Homo sapiens: one gene and its partners. The protein of the gene in region 3 purifies or fractionates together with the protein of the main gene of each other region. This does not show direct contact. Each region holds a gene or a part of one and is shown on either strand. Other genes may lie near its edges. The genes, in order: LNPEP, PLTP, TAFA5, NEBL and TMEM67.

Region 1 (3,518 bases), on a different chromosome or scaffold from region 3:
AATGTGGACACACTAGCTCCTCTCACCAAGACTCAAGTGTCATGGCAGCCTCCCTTATTTCATCATTGAGGCCCTTCCGACAATTATAGGACAAGCAGACACCAGACATGTATTACATTCTTTCTGTCTTCAAAGCACTTTACCAATACCAACTTAAAAAGATATTTAAACATCTCCTTTTGATTGAGCTCTCAAGATTGAGTTCTCCTCATCATTCCCACTAATCTCTATAAATTTTTCCTCTAAAGAGGATCTTGGAATGATTTTGTAAACCAAAAATAAAATTCTAGGCCCCTCAACTGACCGAATGGACCCCTCTGACTGAACGGCCAAGGGCATTCCAAAGTAAACATGAAAAACTAGCTCAGGCTATGATGGGAAGCGGGGGTCAGACGCACCTCATTATACTCTCCTCCCTTTGGAATTCTGGCACAACTGACCAGCATTAATATTAAAACAGAGATCTTAAGACTGACGAAACACTCTTTGTAGCAATAAAATACCAAATTCTAAACTGACTCTAGTATAACATCACACAACAGATAGCAGGCTGTGAAAGAAATAAAGGTATTTTACCCCAAAATATATTTCTTAGACCTATTTTGAAATGGCCCTGCAAAGCTGTCTCTTGTGTGGAACATTCTATAGAAAAAGACCTTTCTGATCTCTTTTTTTTTTTTTTTTTTTGAGATAGGGTCTCACTCTCTTGCCCAGGCTGCAGTGCAGTGGCATGACCACAGCTCACTTCCACTTTGCCCAGGCTCAAGTGATCCTTTCACCTCAGCCTCTCAAGCAGCTGGGACCACAGGTGCATACCATCACACCTGACTAATTTTTTTTTTTAATTTTTAATTTTTTTGTAGAGACAGGCTCTCACTATGTTGCCCAGGCTGGTCTTGAACTGCTGGCCTCAAGCAATCTTCCTGCCTTGGCCTCCCAAAGTGCTAGGATTACAGGTGTGAGCCACTGCACCACCCCAGGTCTTTTTTTGATCCAGGAGAGATTTAACTAAGAGTCTGGCACATTTTACGTTCTGATAAGAGATAATAACCATCTATTCTCTGAAAGCCTGCTACCTGGAGGCTTCGTCTACATATTAAGAACCCTGGTCTCCATGACCCCTTACCTTATCTTAACCCAGACACTCCTTTCTATGGATTCCAGGTCTTTAGATAATAACTTAATTATTTCGACCAACTGCCAATCAGAAAATCTTTGAATGTGGCCACATGTGTGGCTCATGCCTGTAATCCCAGCACTTTGGGAGGCTGAGGTGGGTGATGACTTGAGGCCAGGAGTTCAAGACCACCCTGGGCAATATGGCGAAATCTCATCTCTACTGAAAAAACACAAAAATTAGCTGGGTGTGGTGGCAACATGCCTATAATCCCAGCTACTCAGGAGGCTGAGGCACAAGAATTGCTTGAACCTGGGCGGCGGAGTTTGCAGTGAGCTGAGATTGCACCACTGCACTCCAGTCTGGGTGACAGAATGAGACTCTGTCTCAAAAAAAAAAAAAAAAAAAAAAAAAAGCAAAAATAAGAAAAACAAAAAAGAAAATCTTTGAATCCACCTATGAACTGGAATAGAAGTCCCCGCTTTGAGTTATCCCCTTTCCAGACTGAGCCAATGTACACTTTACATGTATTGATTGTTGTCTGCCTATAACTTCTGTCTCCCTAAAATGTATAACATCAAGCTGTAACCCAACCATGTTGGGCACATGTTCTCAGGACTTCTTGAGACTGTGCTTTGGGCCTTGGTCACACATTATTTATCTCAGAATAAGCCTCTTTAAAGATTTTACAGTTTGACTCTTTTCATTGACAATGAAATGTTTCATTGACAATGTAATGATGTTTCATTGATGAATATACTAACAACTGTTTTAAATTTGACAAAATAACAGTTTCAGCTGTGAGAAATACTATGGCTTAAGCCTCCTTCCTTACCAGAAATTTTCTCTATGGCACTGAATGACACCTGAGTCAGTTGTCCGGGAAATGCTCCCACATAGCACTGTTCATCACTTGCTGCAAGAGGAAGGGAGCACACCCAACCCATAGAGGCATCCTTTTCTCACTGCACTCCTCATTCTTCTGTTCCCTCAGTTGAAGAAGCCTTCTTTAACTTCCTTCACCCCAGATCATTGGCTGGAGAAGACTCTGAGCCCCACAATCCAGAGAAATTCAGACAACTGATTCAAGTTCTGGTTCAGTGACTACATTTTTGAAATATGTGGAATGCCCAGGAGTACCTTCATTAAGCAATATGTATTAGAAGAAAAAGAATTTCAAAAAGTCTCCTACAATTGAACTTGATCCTCCATTGTTTTTTGAAACTCCCTTGGAAGCTTGAATTTTCCTTATTTGGCAAATGACCTGGTTTCCTCCTCATTTACATGTTAAGGATGGAATTTTAAAAAAATTAATTGGTTCATTGTTCTATCACAAGCACCAGTAGAAAAGTGAAGCAAAGCCAGGCTATAAAGAATAGTAGGCTGGCCACAGGGCCGCACTGGCTCACACCTATAGTACCAGCACTTGGGGAGGTCAAGACAGGCAGAACATTGGAGCCCAGGAGTTCGAGACCAGCCTGGCCAACATGGCAAAACTCCATCTCTACAAAAAATACAAAAATTAGCCAGGCATGGTGGTGTGCACCTGTGGTCCCAGTTACTCGGGAGGCTGAGGCAGGAGAATCGCTTGAGCCTGAGAAGTCAAGGCTGCAGTGCTGTGGCCGTGCCACTGCACTCCAGCCAAGCAAGACCCTGTTCCCGTCCCTCCCAAAAAAAGGAACAGCAAATGACTGCTACCATGGTAGTCCCAAAAGGTAGATAGCTCTCTATAGTTTTCTTTTTTTTTTTTTTAAACAACTGGTAATCATTTATTAAAATAGTTGACTTAAGCATCTGCAATGGTGACTTCAACCTCAACTCCTGGCTCAATAATGATGGAAGTAATCTGCTTAACAATCTCAGAAAGACTGTGGAAGTCAATGAGTCACTTATGGATTCTCATCTGGAAACAATACCATGTCTCAGAACCTTCATAAGAAGTTTTTCTTGTAATGTTTCTCAAAGTCTTGGTAGGCATTCAAACTGGTCCTATCACTTTAGATTCTTTTCCTTTGATCCATTGATCAAGTCGGCACACACCTTCTCCAAGGATTTTACCTTGCAGCTCGTTAGAGTGATTCTTTTTATTTATTTATTTTTTTATTATACTTTAAGTTCTAGGGTACATGTGCACAACGTGCAGGTTTGTTACATATGTATACATGTGCTATGTTGGTGTGCTGCACCAATTAAGTCGTCATTTACACTAGGTATATCTCCTAATGCTATCCCTCCCCCCTCCCCCGACTCCATGACAGGCCCCAGTGTGTGGTGTTCCCCACCCTGTGTCCAAGTGTTCTCGTATTTTTTTTTTTTTTTTTTTGAGATGGAGTCTCGCTCTGTCACCAGGCTGGAATGCAGTGGCACGATCTCGGCTCACTGCAACCTCCGCCTCCTGGGT
Region 2 (3,518 bases), on a different chromosome or scaffold from region 3:
ACAAAGACAGACCCCAGCTCTCAGTGGCTTACAGGTATCACTGTACTTTAAGCGCAACATCCCTGTGGACAGGTGTGATTGTCCTCCAATCACTGAGGTGCAGGGAAGTGCGCCTGCCTACCTGCGCAGGTCCAGCTGCGTGCGCAGGGCCTTCCCCCGGAGAGCCATCTTGGCGCTGAGACGGGCGTCCTGCAGGAACATGGGGAGGAGGATGTTACTGACCCAGAAGGTCAGTAACCCACAGCCCATTTTTCCCTGACCCCCAGCCAGCAGCCCCCACTCTGGGACCCGTACCATAGTCATGCTGGACAGCTGGACCTCAGGCTGGTCTGGTGGGACCAGGGCAATGGTGACGCTAGCAGTGACAGAGATGGTGGTGCCAGAGGGCTTGATGGTGCAGCGCGGTGGGGCCAGGACCCGCAGCTCCAGCTTCAATGGGGAGTCAATCACTGCTGGGCTCTGGGGGATGAGCAGCAGGGGCGGGTCAAGTCCCTGCCATTTCCTTTGGAGCCCCCAGGGAAGAAGGGGAAGGAAGGCAGGTGCAGCTTCTGTCCTCTGGGGACTCTCATATTGCAAATACAGAGGGAGCTCTGGCTTCCAAAACTCTCACATCTGCATCTAGCCTTCATGCCTTTGCCACACAAAGAAACAGGAATGTGTTCTTCTCTTTCTGCTTCCTAAATACATCTCAATATTCAGGTCTATCTCCAATCCAGACTCTTTGTGGATGTCCTTTTTGCATTAGTATCTCAGCCCTTGCCATGTCTTCTGTTTTTGATATGGAGTCTCACTTTGTTGCCCAGGCTGGAGTGCAGTGGCACAATCTCGGCTCACTGCAACTCTGTCTCCCAGGTTCAGGCGATTCTCCCGCCTCAGCCTCCCAAGTAGCTGAGATTACAGGCACCTGCCGCCATGCCCGGCTAAGTTTTGTATTTTTAATAGAAACGGGGTTTCGCCATATTGGCCAGGCTAGTGATTCGCCCACCTCGGCCTCCCAAAGTGCTGGGATTACAGGCATGAGCCACCACACCCAAACCCCTTGCCATATCTTTTTGCTCTCTCTCTCCTTTTTTTTTGAGACAGGGTCTCTGTTGCCCAGGCTGGAGTGCAGTGGCATGATCACGGCTCACTGCAGCCTCAACCTCCTCAGCTCAAATTATCCTGCCACATCAGCCTCCTGAACAGCTGAGACCACAGGTTCATGCCATCACGCCTGGCTTATTTTTGTATTTGTTTTTTGTTTTGGTTTTTGCTTTTGTGTTTTCGTAGAGACGGGGTTTGGCCATGTTGCCCATGCTGGTCTCAAACTCCTGGGCTCAAGTGATCTGCCGGCTTCAGCCTCCCACAGTGTTGGGATTACAGGCGTGAGCCACCGTGCCTGGCCATATCTTCTTTCTCTAAACTGCTATGCCTTCTTCTATAGGCAGTGAAGGAATACTATAAGATGCAACTGCCTAATCTTCACCAAACATGATTCTAAACACTGTATATGTGTTGGTTCCTTTAAACCTCATAATAACCATGTGAGGCCGATATTATTACTGCCAATTTTGTTGTTGTTATTTTTTACAAATTTATTTTTCAGGCTGAGTCGTCATGGCAGAGAATTGCTTGAACCCGGGAGGTTCAATTGCAGTGAGCCAAGATTGCGCCACTGCACTCCAGCCTGGGTGACAGAGTGAGACTTTGTCCCCCCACCGAAAAAAAAAGATCTGACTAAAAATTTATTTTTCAATAGAGACAGTGTCTCACTGTGTTGCCCAGGCTGGTCTCAAACTCCTGGGCTCAAGCAATTTTCCTACCTTGACCTCTCAAAGTTCTCAGAGTATAGGCGTGAGCCATCATGCCCAGCCATATCCCCATTTTTGAGATGGGGAAATTGAGGCACAGATAGGTTAAGTAACTTGTAGAGGTTATGTAGTTACTCAGTTTCAGAACTAGGCTTGAAGCCCAGGCAGTCTGACAATAGAGACCCTGCCCTGCCATAAATTGGATGATGATAATGACTGAATTATTTCTTTTAAAATTTGTAATTCTGCTAGGTGCGGTGGCTCACACCTGTAATCCTAGCACTTTGGGAGGCCAAAAATGGGTGATCACTTGAGCCCAGGAGTTCAAGGACAGCCTGAGCAACATAATGAAACTCTGTCTCAACAAAATATAAAAATTAGCGGGGTGTGGTGGCACAAGCCTGTAATTCCAGCTACTCAAGAGGCTGAAGCAGGAGGATGGCTTGAGCCCTGGGAGGCAGAGGTTGCAGTGAGCCTAGATTGTGCCACTGCATTCCAACTTGGGTGACAAAGTGAGACTCTTGTCTCAAAAAAAAAAATAAATAAAATGTGTAACTCTTACTCTCCTCCCCAATACACAAATAAACAAAAGTATATGTGAATTATTATTAAAGCCCTCACACTTGCAAAGCTTGGGTTCTCACTAATCCTCACAGCAGCTCTGCGAAGGAGATGGGGCAGGAAGGAGCAGGAAGGAGCAGACCGCTTCACAGACAGGAACAGCCATGACAAGGCGAGGGGGATTGGCCACAGACAAGAGGCCAGGGCCCTGTCTGCGTGGCTGCCACTGGGGGCCCCACCTGCACCCCTCCTTGGTCTCACTGGTGTGCAGGTGGCCCTATCCCTGCCCCCGCCAGCACTCACCAGCAGGACAATGCTCCCAAAGTAGGTGGCCCTCAGCAGCATGTCCAGGTCGTGGGGCACCTGAACAGGGGAATCAGGAGTGAGGGAGTGAGCTCTGTCACAGACCTTCTCTTGCCCATCCCACAAACAGGCCATGACATACCTTGTCCCCCACCAGCAACAGCTGCAGGGCCCCCGCCCGGAAGTAGCTCTCCATGGCAGAGTCGAAGAAGAACTCAGAGAAGGCCACATACACCATCCGCTCTTCCTCCTGCAGCTGGGGCTCCACTGCCCGGTTGGGGAGGCTCCAGTTCCTCTCAGTCAGGGGGAAGAAGGCCCCCTGGGGTGGGGCATTCACAGTCAGGGTCAAGGCAGACTGGCCTGGCACCTGGACTGACAGCAGGTGTCTCCCAGCCCCGTGCTAGGCACTGTGGGGGGATGGTGGGAACCCAGCTGCTGTTCTTGGAGGATTCACAAGCACATCTCTTAAAAGGCATTGGAAGGAGGACACCTGCTACCAGGGGGCGAGCCCGTCAGACTGGAGGAGGGAGGGTCAGGAAAGGTTTCAGGGAAGAGGTGACATCTGAGTGGGCCTTGAAAGCTAGAGGCAGTAACAACAGCTACTGTTTACATATATTGTGCATACTCATGCTTCTTTGCCAAGTACTCTAAGCTCTTCACATAGATCGACTTCTTTAATCTGCATAACAACGTGTGTTTTCTTACTAGATTATTTCCATTTACATGTTAGGAAACTGGCCAACTGAAAACTTATGCTTAGGGCCGTGCAGCTAGTCAGTGGCAGAGCTAGGATTTGAACTTCAGGCATTCTTTTTCTCTTTGTAGAGAAGGAGGTCTCACTATGATGCCCAAGCTGGTCTCAAA
Region 3 (3,518 bases):
GCCAGGGACCAGGAACCAGGGACCAGAGTCAGGGGAGCCGGCTAGAACAGAAGGGCACGTCGGTGCTAGGCTGGGGGAGGCGCAGAGATGGACATAAAGCAAACTCTAGGCAACCAAGGGTCCCACCAGCAGAGCAGAACTTCCTGGGGAGAAATCCACTTAGGAAATGCGGGCTGTAGACACCACAGAAATCTCCAAAAATCACACTTGGGGACTCAGCCACCTCCTGGAAAGGCAGGCGTAATGAAACAAGCAGGAAGATGAGGGGAAAGGCTGATGGGCGCCGCCGTCGGTGCGGGAGTGTTTGATTGCCTCTAAATGGCTTCATCACCATCGGCAGCACGGTTACATGTGAAATGCGGAGAAATTAAGACAGAGAAGAGATTGCAAGCAACTGGTGAACCCTGCGCTGATTCCAAGCTCTGGAAACAGAAGTGTGTGGAAACGTGCAGAGACACCTCCCTCCCGGCAGACAGCCTTTCCAGCAGCTCCGCCGGTCTGGGAGGGGCTGCACTGAGCCTGCAGGAGCTGTCTCTGCACAGAGAAACAGTCACGGGAGGCAAGGGACACGCACGGGACGGGGACTTGGGCTGAACTTCCTCAGACCCCCACGCTGGCCCGTCCAGCTGCAGAAGTGGAGAAACCCAGAAACTGTAAGATTGCCACCCTGCTGGTATTGAGTCCACACCAGGAAATACCAGCACAAGTGTGCTTGCTGGGGCCACAGACAAGGTATAGGTGCGCTAGAGCAGGGCTTCCAGTGGGCTGATTGTCCCAGGGTCAGGCGGCAAGGTCCAGAGACATCTTTGGTTGTCACAACTGGGAGGAGGGGCCCCTGGCATCAAGTGGGGGGTGGCCGGGGTGCTCGCAAAGCCCCGCCATGTACAGGCAGACCCCTGCCACAGAGCATGGCCCAGCTCTAAATGACCCCAGTGCTGCCCTGAGAAACCCTGAACTGGGAGAAATTGGAACAAGTGCAACTTTAACGAGAACAAAGATTGGGGAGCTGTCACTGCAGAAGTCCAGAAAAAGAGGCCAAAAGGAGGGTTTGAGTTTTCCACTCTAGCAACGAGAAAAGTCCTACTAAATATACCTACCAATTCTGAGCTCTTCCCAGGTATTCCACATATTATTATTATTAATCAAACTGTTAGAACCAAAGATATCTTTGGAATCCAGGAGACTTAGTTTGCAAGAGGACAGCAGCCCTCCAGCCCCTGCCTCTTCAGCCCCACCCCTAGGCTTGCAGCCACTCCTACCCTCAGCCCACTCTTCAGCCCCGCCTCCAGGTGGGCCCCACCCCACTCTTCAGCCCCGCCTTCAGGCCCCCAGCCCTGCCCCTTCAGCCCCGCCCCCAGGCTTGCAGCCCCACCCCTAGGCTTGCAGCCTCTCCTACCCTCAGCCCACTCTTCAGCCCCGCCTCCAGGTGGGCCCCACCCCACTCTTCAGCCCCGCCTTCAGGCCCCCAGCCCTGCCCCTTCAGCCCCGCCCCCAGGCTTGCAGCCCCACCCCTAGGCTTGCAGCCTCTCCTACCCTCAGCCCACTCTTCAGCCCCGCCTCCAGGTGGGCCCCACCCCACTCTTCAGCCCCGCCTCCAGGTGGGCCCCACCCCACTCTTCAGCCCCGCCTCCAGGTGGGCCCCACCCCACCCTTCAGCCCCGCCTCCAGGCCTCCAAACCTGCCCCTGCCCTCAGCCCCGCCCCCAGGCCTCCAGCCCCGCCCCCAGGATTCCAGCTACTCCTCTGACCCTCAGCCCCGCCCCCAGGCCTCAGCCCCGCCCCCAGGATTCCAGCTACTCCTCTGACCCTCAGCCCCGCCCCCAGGCCTCCAGCCCCGCCCCCAGGATTCCAGCTACTCCTCTGACCCTCAGCCCCGCCCCCAGGCCTCAGCCCCGCCCCCAGGATTCCAGCTACTCCTCTGACCCTCAGCCCCGCCCCCAGGCCTCCAGCCCCGCCCCCAGGATTCCAGCTACTCCTCTGACCCTCAGCCCCGCCCCCAGGCCTCAGCCCCGCCCCCAGGATTCCAGCTACTCCTCTGACCCTCAGCCCCGCCCCCAGGCCTCAGCCCCGCCCCCAGGCCTAAACCCAGACTGATGACCCCTGGCCACTGGACACTCCAGTCTTGTCTTTCAAGCTTCTTGGCTGCGCTGAGGCGGAAATGCCGTCTTTTCTAGAGCTGTTCTACGAGTGCAGAAACAGGGGCAAGGGGCTGGCCCAGAAACCAGCAGCGAGGCTGCGGAGCATCCCTGAAGATGGAAGAACCCTGCCGGGCCCCGTGGGACCGCAGGCCCCGGCTTCTCCTCCCTGCGTCCTCCCTCCACCCAGGGCAAGGTCCGCCCATACGGGAAGGAGGGAGGCGCGGCCTGGAACACCGCAGGCGGGGGCGGAACGGGGCCATGGTCCCTGGCAGGGCTGATTTCCATGGATGGGCCACTGCTGGGGAGCCCCGAGCCCGTGGGGAGTGGAGCTGGCACCGGGAGGAAGCCCAGACCTGGAGTCAGGCAGGCAGGCCTGCAGTCCCTGTGCGGGACCAGCCCCACCGCTCCCCATAAGGAGGGGGCCTCCAGTCCAGCAGCTCCTCCCCTGGTGGCTGGGAGGTGAGGGGGCGCCAAGCCTCTTTCTGGAAGGTGAAATGCAAGCACAGCAGCCTGTTACTGTGTTAGTGGTATTGCTTTCTCTGTATTTTCTTTCCTATATTCATTCAGAGATCCTGAACCAAGCATGAAGATGCTGTGGGCGACAGATTCCTGCATGTGCCTTTAGGTGGCACAGCCTACGCCGTTAACCCCCAGGAAACCAGGGCCCCTGATGGCTGGACCACCCCGCCTGCCCTTCACAACTCTCCCTGCGGTGCACCTGCAAACCAGGACCACACAGCGCCCTAAACGAGCAGGCAGTCCCAGCAGAGGTAGAGCCAGACCCCTCTGTGCCCAGCTCTGGGTGGAGTGGGTGACGTCAGAAGACATCGCCTACCACAAGTGGGCCCTCCTCTGTCCCCCACAGCTGGTCAGGCGTCCCTGACTCCCCTGGCTCCTCTGCCTGCAGGGTTGACATCATTGTATAGAAGGGTTTCCACATCCACGTGACCTTCTGGAGCTTCAGCCCACTGAGAGCTGGGAGGTTCCCTGTGGCTGCCTCACCGTACAGCTCACTGCCCAGCAGATGCCGTGACCAAAAGCATCTGTCCAGAGAGCCCACAGTCAGTCCCCCGAGGCCAGCAGCCATGCCCCAAGCTCACAGCCCAACAGCTCACTGCCCAGCAGATGCCGTGACCAAAAGCATCTGTCCAGAGAGCCCACAGTCAGTCCCCCGAGGCCAGCAGCCATGCCCCAAGCTCACAGCCCAAAACAAGGAAGAAAGTGACCCCGACAGTGGCCACCACAACACACACGCACAGCACTGGAGAGGGGATGGGGATGCATGCTCAGGGGATGCCTCAGGAAGCAGGGGATCCTCTAAGACATGAGGTGGGCACTTTCTGGCCTAGCTCACCATGCCTTCCTGCATCCACTGCATTTA
Region 4 (3,518 bases), on a different chromosome or scaffold from region 3:
AATCACACTGTCACACTAATTGCTGCACAATCTGGAAACTGGGAAGGCAAAACTATGACTCATTGAGAAGATGCAGGTAATTTGCTAAAAGTTGTATCACTCTGTAATATGCTCGTGTTTATCCTCCCAAGACCATAAATACTTAAACTGAAAAAGTGTTCCTGTTTCAGATGATAAATTATATGTTCTCCCTAATTATAACCCAAAAGTGGAGCTGAATTGTATATACTACCTGGTTCTTAGAGGATGTGAATAATATTGATGTTATACACTAATGGTACATGGAGATTTTCCCATATGCAAGCCTGATTTGACGGGCATTACTTAACCTGTGGTAGAACTAGATACAGATTAAGTGAAGTTATTTCAAAATCCCATATTTCACTGCTGTGACTCTTGGATATCAGATGCCTACCACATTAAACATTTGCTTTATTCATGAAATCAACACGAGAACATATTTATCTTATCTGAGCACTAAATTACTTTTTTTTCTTCTCAGAGATTAGCCATAATTTTAGGTTCCTGCAAATCACCCTCCTCAGCCACTAGTAATTAAACTGTTAATGGCAGTATGATAAATAGTAGGCTATTTTGATCATATGGAGAAAAAAGTATCTCCGTTATATAATTAAGTGTGAGAGAAAATAGCCTATCATTAGGCTTAAGTTTGACTCATTATTTTTATCTTTTGCCACCATCTATTCCCCATCACATTCACATTCTTCACTGCAGTGGTATGTGCTTGTGGCTACAGCCTCCTGATAAAGTCTGACACATGCAGAACGTTCAGGACAGGAGGACTGGATAAGGGTGAGGTATTTACTTCTTCTGTTAGGCAGACAAATAGCTCAGTCTTAATTGTAGACTCTATTTTTTTTTCTTGGGTCTTTATTAAAAAGATACACATATTTGTATATTTTAAATGAAGGTGTATTTAAAATTTAAGATCCTTTACAATTGTACAATTCAAGAGAAATTGTACAATTTGTTAGAAGTCACACACAATCATGTGTGATTTCAAGTGAATTGTGCAATATGAATGACAATAAGCAAAGAATGTTAGATTTTTAAATACATAAGGAATATTTATATAAATATTAGATACATATTAGTAGCCTTCCTACACCAAGATAACAGGAAATGATCATTGAAAGGGAACTATATTGGTCAATGAAACAAATCTTAGGTAAAATAAAAATCACTGAATAGATTGCTATATTTTATTACAGCCATGTCTACATCTTACAATTTCGGGTTGACACCATCTATTGGATAGACTGGCCACTCCCATTATCTCCTATTAAAAGAGCCCAGATGGATTAATGAGAGCAGCCAGGCTCCTGCCCAGCCCCAGAGGACAAGCTGATCTAAACCAGGCATGGTCATGCCATCCAGTGTTTGGCCTGGGGAGCCACACTCTCTGTGACTTTAGTGGAAATCTTCCCAGAAGTGCTTCTAGTGTTTCTGGTACAAAGGGAGAGATGCTGCACAACCCTGTGACATTCTGTCTTCCACATTTTTCTTTCTCAATCAAAGGGAAGGCAGCAGCAATGATGTCATTACCAAGGAATAAGCCACCATACTAATGACGACAGAATAGAAGGAAAGGAGCCTGGGAGACTGATAACACCCATAGTACCCAGCCTGAACTACCTACCTCCGGGCTTTATATGTGGAGGCTGGGGAAACAAAAACCTACTTGTTAAGCCATTGTGTTAGAGTTTTCCTGTTTTTACAGTCATCTGCACTCCTACCGAATACACAACCCAACACCAAAAGACAAAAAGGGCAAAATTGATGACTTTATGATCATTAAGATGTCCCAAACATTGACCTTCTCTTTTGCCCTCACCCACAAATCCCACGTCTCCATTACAATTAGGATGAATTTAGTGCAGGGTCGCTTCCTCCTCCTGGCCAAGTTTGTTTGAATGAGTATGAGATTAGCTAAAGGCTGAAATCGGATGACAGACATGGAGATGTTTGCGGATCTTTCCTTTCACAAGAATTCTTAACTGAAAGTATCTGGAAAGGCTCTTCACAAGTGAAATCATACAAGTTAAATTCAATACACCCTGGAAGGAAAAACAATGGCTCCATCATTATTTAACTGGGCTGGACATAGCTAAGATCACTCTCCCAGGTTTTCTGATACCATCTAAGCTTTCTCTGGAGGAGTAACCACAGAATTTAATGTTTTTGGCATTGAAAGGATTTACCCACAACAACGTTCATTTGCCTGGAAAATATTCTTCCTGCTGCCATGCAGATGAACACCCTAAACAGCCTTGAACTAAACACTGAGAGGCTGCATGCAGATGTGGTCCACCTGCTCTGCAGAAGGCTCTTTCTGCCTAATCTACAAGAAACATACAAAAGATTCCCTTTTGCCCAATCTTTTTTATGACTCCCCATCAGAAGACTACTAGATCCAGGATTCTGAATGCTCAATAGAGAGGATAGGTTTAACTTATTCAAGGGATTGATTAGATAATGTTAGGTTAGACTAACAGGAATAAATATGACAGAGAGAATATCTGTGAAAATATATCTGAGAAAATAATAGTATTATGTGATTAACAGAAAAATAAAAGAGGCTGCCTCAGAAGACCAGCTGTTCTTCAAGACTGGGAAGTGAGTTGTGCAAAGAGGAACCCCATAATGTGGGTAGAGCAAGTGCAAAGCAGAAACTAGGTGGGGGGAGAAAGAGAAAGAAAGAAAAATGCCTTATACTGATGCCCAAAGTGAAGCCACTTGACCTGAAAAACGGACATTTCTCTCTATGGAGAATTCTAAGCAGTGCAGGCTTCCTAGGGCTGATCTCTAGGCCAATCTTGCTTAACATTTCTATAAAATTGTCTGACAAGGGGATGATATAGCAGTGTCTACAGGTCTGCTGACTCCAAGCTGTCTCAGTAAGGGAAACGGCAAACTGAGATGAACTTCAGAAGTTCTCAAAGGGCCAGGCAAGAGGGCAGAAAACTACAGATTAGATCTAGCCCTAGTGTGGTTAAAATAATTCAAACTATTATTTAAAGATGATGGGTCCTAAGCTATCAGCTACAGGTCAGAAATTAGGAATGAAATGGCTCTGATGGTCTACAGATTATCAAGCTGATCTAACAGCTTTCTGCAGCTCCCAAGTCTAAGAAACTCTTCATAGCATCATAAAGGGTGCTAGAAGCTAAGCAAAACATCATCCTGCTCTACACGTGATCTAGACCGTCCACATCTGTACCACTCTGCACAGTTCTGATTATTACATATTGGTTATTAAGGATATATGAAAGCTGGAAGAAGTCCAAAGAGTAACAATTAGGCTGCACCATGAAGAGAAGTCCATGAAACCATCCCTCTCATCTACAGAAACGAAGCAGGGCCAGCCCGGTGGCTCACACCTGTAATCCCAGCACTCTGGGAGAACGATGCAGGAGAATCACTTAAAGCCAAGAGCTTGAGACCAGCCTGGGCAACATAGTGAGACTCCATCTCTACGAAAAAGAAAATGAAAATTA
Region 5 (3,518 bases), on a different chromosome or scaffold from region 3:
ATTTCCTGAATTTGAATGTTGGCCTGCCTTGCTAGGTTGGGGAAGTTCTCCTGGATAATATCCTGAAGAGTGTCTTCCAACTTGGTTCCATTTTCCCCATCACTTTCAGGTACACCAATCAAACATAGATTTGGTCTTTTCACATAGTCCCATATTTCTTGGAGGCTTTGCTCATTTCTTTTTAGTCTTTTTTCTCTAACCTTGTCGTCTCGCTTTATTTCATTAATTTGATCTTCAATTACTGATACCCTTTCTTCCACTTGACCAAATCGGCTACTGAAGCTTGTGCATGCATCACATAGTTCTTGTGCCATGTCTTTTAGCTCCATCAGGTCATTTAAGGTCTTCTCTACACTGTTTATTCTAGTTAGCCATTTGTCTAATCTTTTTTCAAGGTTTTTAGCTTCCTTCCGACGGGTTCGAACATCCTCCTTTAGCTCAGAGAAGTTTGTTATTACCGACCTTCTGAAGCGTACTTCTGTCAGTTTGTCAAAGTCATTCTCCATCCAGCTTTGTTCTGTTGCTGGTGAGGAGCTGCATTCCTTTGGAAGAGAGGAGGCACTCTGGTTTTTAGAATTTTCAGCTTTTCTGCTCTGGTTTCTCCCCATCTTTATGGTTTTACCTACCTTTGGTCTTTGATGTTGGTGACCTACAGATGGGGTTTTGATGTGGATGGGGTTTTGATGTGGATGTCCTTTTTGTTGATGTTGATGCTATTCCTTTCTATTTGTTAGTTTTCCTTCTAACAGGTCCCTCAGCTGCAGGTCTGTTGGAGTTTGCTAGAGGTCCACTCCAGACGCTGTTTTCCTGGATATTACCAGCGGAGGTTGTAGAACAGCAAATATTGCTGCCTGATCCTTCCTCTGGAAGCTTCGTCCCAGAGGGGCGCCCACCTGTATGAGGTGTCTGTCGGCCCCTACTGGGAGGTGTCTCCCAGTTAGGCTACACAGGGTCAGGGATCCACTTGAGGAGGCAGTCTATCCATTCTCTGAGCTCAAACGCTGTGCTGGGAGAACCACTGCTCTCTTCAGAGCTGTCAGACAGGGATGTTTAACTCTGCAGAAGTTTCTGGTGCCTTTTGTTCAGCTATGCCCTGCTGCCAGAGGTGGAGTCAACAGAGGCAGCAGGCCTTGCTGAACTGCGGTGGGCTCCACCCAGTTGGAGCTTCCCCGGCTGCTTTGTTTTCCTACTCAAGCCTCAGCAATGGCAGACACCCCTCCCCCTGCCAGCCTGCTGCCTGGCAGGTTGATCTCAGCTGTGCTAGCAGTGAGCAAGGCTCTGTAGGCGTGGGACCCACCGAGCCAGGCGTGGGATGTAATCTGGTGTGCCGTTTGCTAAGACCATTGGAAAAGCGCAGTGTTTAGGTGGAGGTGTCCCATTTTTCCAGGTACAGTCTGTCACGGCTTCCCTTGGCTAGGAAAGGGAAATCCCCCAACCCCTTGCGCTTCCTGGGTGAGGTGATGCCCCACCCTGCTTCAGCTTGCCCTCCATGGGCTGCACCCACTGTCCAACCAGTCCCAATGAGATGAACCAGGTATCTCAGTTGGAAATGCAGAAATCACCTGCCTTCTGCGTTGATTATGCTGGGAGCTGCAGACCGGAGCTGTTCCTACTCGGCCATCTTGGAACAGACCTGCACAAAGTAAAATTTTTATATCAACTTTTGCATAGACTGTTCAGGTTCATGTTACTTTTCTTTGCCATTGTTCTGTTGTAGGTATATGCCAATCTAACATCTTGTCAAGCTCTTGGAAATATGTGTGTGATGAACATGAATTCTTACGACTTTGCCACATTTGATGCATGTGGACTATTTCAGTTTATCTTTGAAAATACTGCTGGACTGAGCACTGTTCATTCTATTTCATTTTGGTAAGGATATTTTGATTGATGAAATGTTATTTTGACTGAATTCAGTGCAGTTATTAATATATTCACAAATACTAATAATAAGAAATATTTATTCTCCATTATTAAAACAGTTGTAACTGTTTATAGGAGACAGAATCTTCCTTGGCTGTTTTATGGAGACCAGTTAGGATTAGCACCTCAAGTGCTCAGTTCTACCTCTCTTCCTACAAATTTCAGTTTTAAAGGAGAAAACCAGGTAAAAGTGTCTAATATCATTAGAGGATAACTACATTTTGATTTATAATTTTAAAAGGTAATAAAGTTACAATTCTTGCCTTTTTAGGTTGTTGGTACAAACTCAGTTACTAAACTAAATATAAATGTCAACAACTCATAAGAACTAAATAGTATAGAGTTTAGCTATCTTACTGAATATGTGGATACTTCTGGATTGTGTGGTTATGGCAAGAAGTTGTACTTGTAGGGTTGGGAAGAGCAGTTTTCATCACCAAATGCAAAAAATCTCTGTCCTGTTTTTTCCACACCTTAAAGAAGTGCTTCCAAAGATTGATTGGGGCTCTGTGACATTGCTCAGCACTTCACAGGGCCAAATTCCTACCTGTAACTTTTTGACCTTCCAGAATGAGGAGATACTATTCTCCCACACTGCCTCCTATTTAACAGGTTCAAAAGGAGGCTATCTGTCACTAGTGCTGCCTCTCAATTCTAGAATAATAATTTTCATGCAAAAAACCAGTCTAATTCTTTCAGGTCTATTTAGTCATAGAAATAGATTAATTGAACCTCAAAATAAAGATAATTGAATGTAATTTTTCAACAAAAAAGATCAGTCAACAATGAAAATTTCTTTATAGGATATTGTATTACTTTCAGAGTATTTGACCTGATTTTGCTCGTTTTCTTTAATCAGAATACAAAACTGAAGTTTGTTGCTGCTTCCTATGATATAAGAGGAAATTTTCTCAAGTGGCAAACTTTAGAAGGAGGTGTTTTACAGGTAAGCATGATTCTAGTTAAAGAATTAATAACATGCATTATTTTTGCCTGAGACAAAGCCAAGAGGAAAAGATTATTGTATGAATAAAGCATCAGTTACATACTACAGTTGATTTTTTTTCTGATGCTTTAAATTAGACTTTCTTAAGTTTTTTGTTTGTTTGTTTGTTTGTTTGTTTTTTCTTTTTTTTTTGAGATGGAGTCTCGCTTTCTTAACCAGGCTGGAGTGCAGTGGCGCGATCTCAGCTCACTACAAGCTCCGCCTTGCGGGTTCACGCCATTCTCCTGCTTCAGCTGGGAGCTGGAACTACAGGCGACTGCCACCACGTCCAGCTAATTTTTATGTACTTTTAGTAGAGACGGGATTTCACCATGTTAGCCAGGATGGTCTTGATCTCCTGACCTCGTGATCCGCCCTTCTTGGCCTCCCAAAGCGCTGGGATTGCAGGCATGAGCCACCATGCCTGGCTAAGTTTTATTTCTTTAAAGTTATGACTTTCATTTATAACAGATGTTCCCTTAACTTTTCATATCCTTGATACATTAAATAAGTATTATGTAGAGCATATATCCATGTTCGGGTTTGAGAACTCTTGAGTATAAGAATAGAAAACATTTGTGAGATTTATCTGTTGTATTATTTTGCTGCA

What was found.
Region 1: the proteins of TAFA5 (region 3) and LNPEP purify together in Homo sapiens (affinity purification with mass spectrometry; one large-scale study listed by BioGRID and IntAct). This does not show direct contact.
Region 2: the proteins of TAFA5 (region 3) and PLTP purify together in Homo sapiens (affinity purification with mass spectrometry; one large-scale study listed by BioGRID and IntAct). This does not show direct contact.
Region 4: the proteins of TAFA5 (region 3) and NEBL purify together in Homo sapiens (affinity purification with mass spectrometry; one large-scale study listed by BioGRID and IntAct). This does not show direct contact.
Region 5: the proteins of TAFA5 (region 3) and TMEM67 purify together in Homo sapiens (affinity purification with mass spectrometry; one large-scale study listed by BioGRID and IntAct). This does not show direct contact.

The regions. Positions count from the first base shown.
Region 1 is NC_000005.10:96,942,575-96,946,092, reverse strand, and holds part of LNPEP (leucyl-cystinyl aminopeptidase), read right to left. Parts: intron 1-3,518. UniProt on the Homo sapiens protein: Release of an N-terminal amino acid, cleaves before cysteine, leucine as well as other amino acids. Degrades peptide hormones such as oxytocin, vasopressin and angiotensin III, and plays a role in maintaining homeostasis during pregnancy.
Region 2 is NC_000020.11:45,902,146-45,905,663, forward strand, and holds part of PLTP (phospholipid transfer protein isoform a precursor), read right to left. Parts: intron 2,974-3,518; coding exon 2,797-2,973; intron 2,715-2,796; coding exon 2,655-2,714; intron 460-2,654; coding exon 295-459; intron 190-294; coding exon 122-189; intron 1-121. UniProt on the Homo sapiens protein: Mediates the transfer of phospholipids and free cholesterol from triglyceride-rich lipoproteins (low density lipoproteins or LDL and very low density lipoproteins or VLDL) into high-density lipoproteins (HDL) as well as the exchange of phospholipids between triglyceride-rich lipoproteins themselves.
Region 3 is NC_000022.11:48,496,049-48,499,566, reverse strand, and holds part of TAFA5 (chemokine-like protein TAFA-5 isoform 1 precursor), read right to left. Parts: intron 1-3,518. UniProt on the Homo sapiens protein: Acts as a chemokine-like protein by regulating cell proliferation and migration through activation of G protein-coupled receptors (GPCRs), such as S1PR2 and FPR2. Stimulates chemotactic migration of macrophages mediated by the MAPK3/ERK1 and AKT1 pathway.
Region 4 is NC_000010.11:20,890,809-20,894,326, forward strand, and holds part of NEBL (nebulette), read right to left. Parts: intron 1-3,518. UniProt on the Homo sapiens protein: Binds to actin and plays an important role in the assembly of the Z-disk. May functionally link sarcomeric actin to the desmin intermediate filaments in the heart muscle sarcomeres.
Region 5 is NC_000008.11:93,778,876-93,782,393, forward strand, and holds part of TMEM67 (meckelin isoform 1 precursor), read left to right. Parts: intron 1-1,717; coding exon 1,718-1,872; intron 1,873-1,998; coding exon 1,999-2,107; intron 2,108-2,782; coding exon 2,783-2,869; intron 2,870-3,518. UniProt on the Homo sapiens protein: Required for ciliary structure and function. Part of the tectonic-like complex which is required for tissue-specific ciliogenesis and may regulate ciliary membrane composition.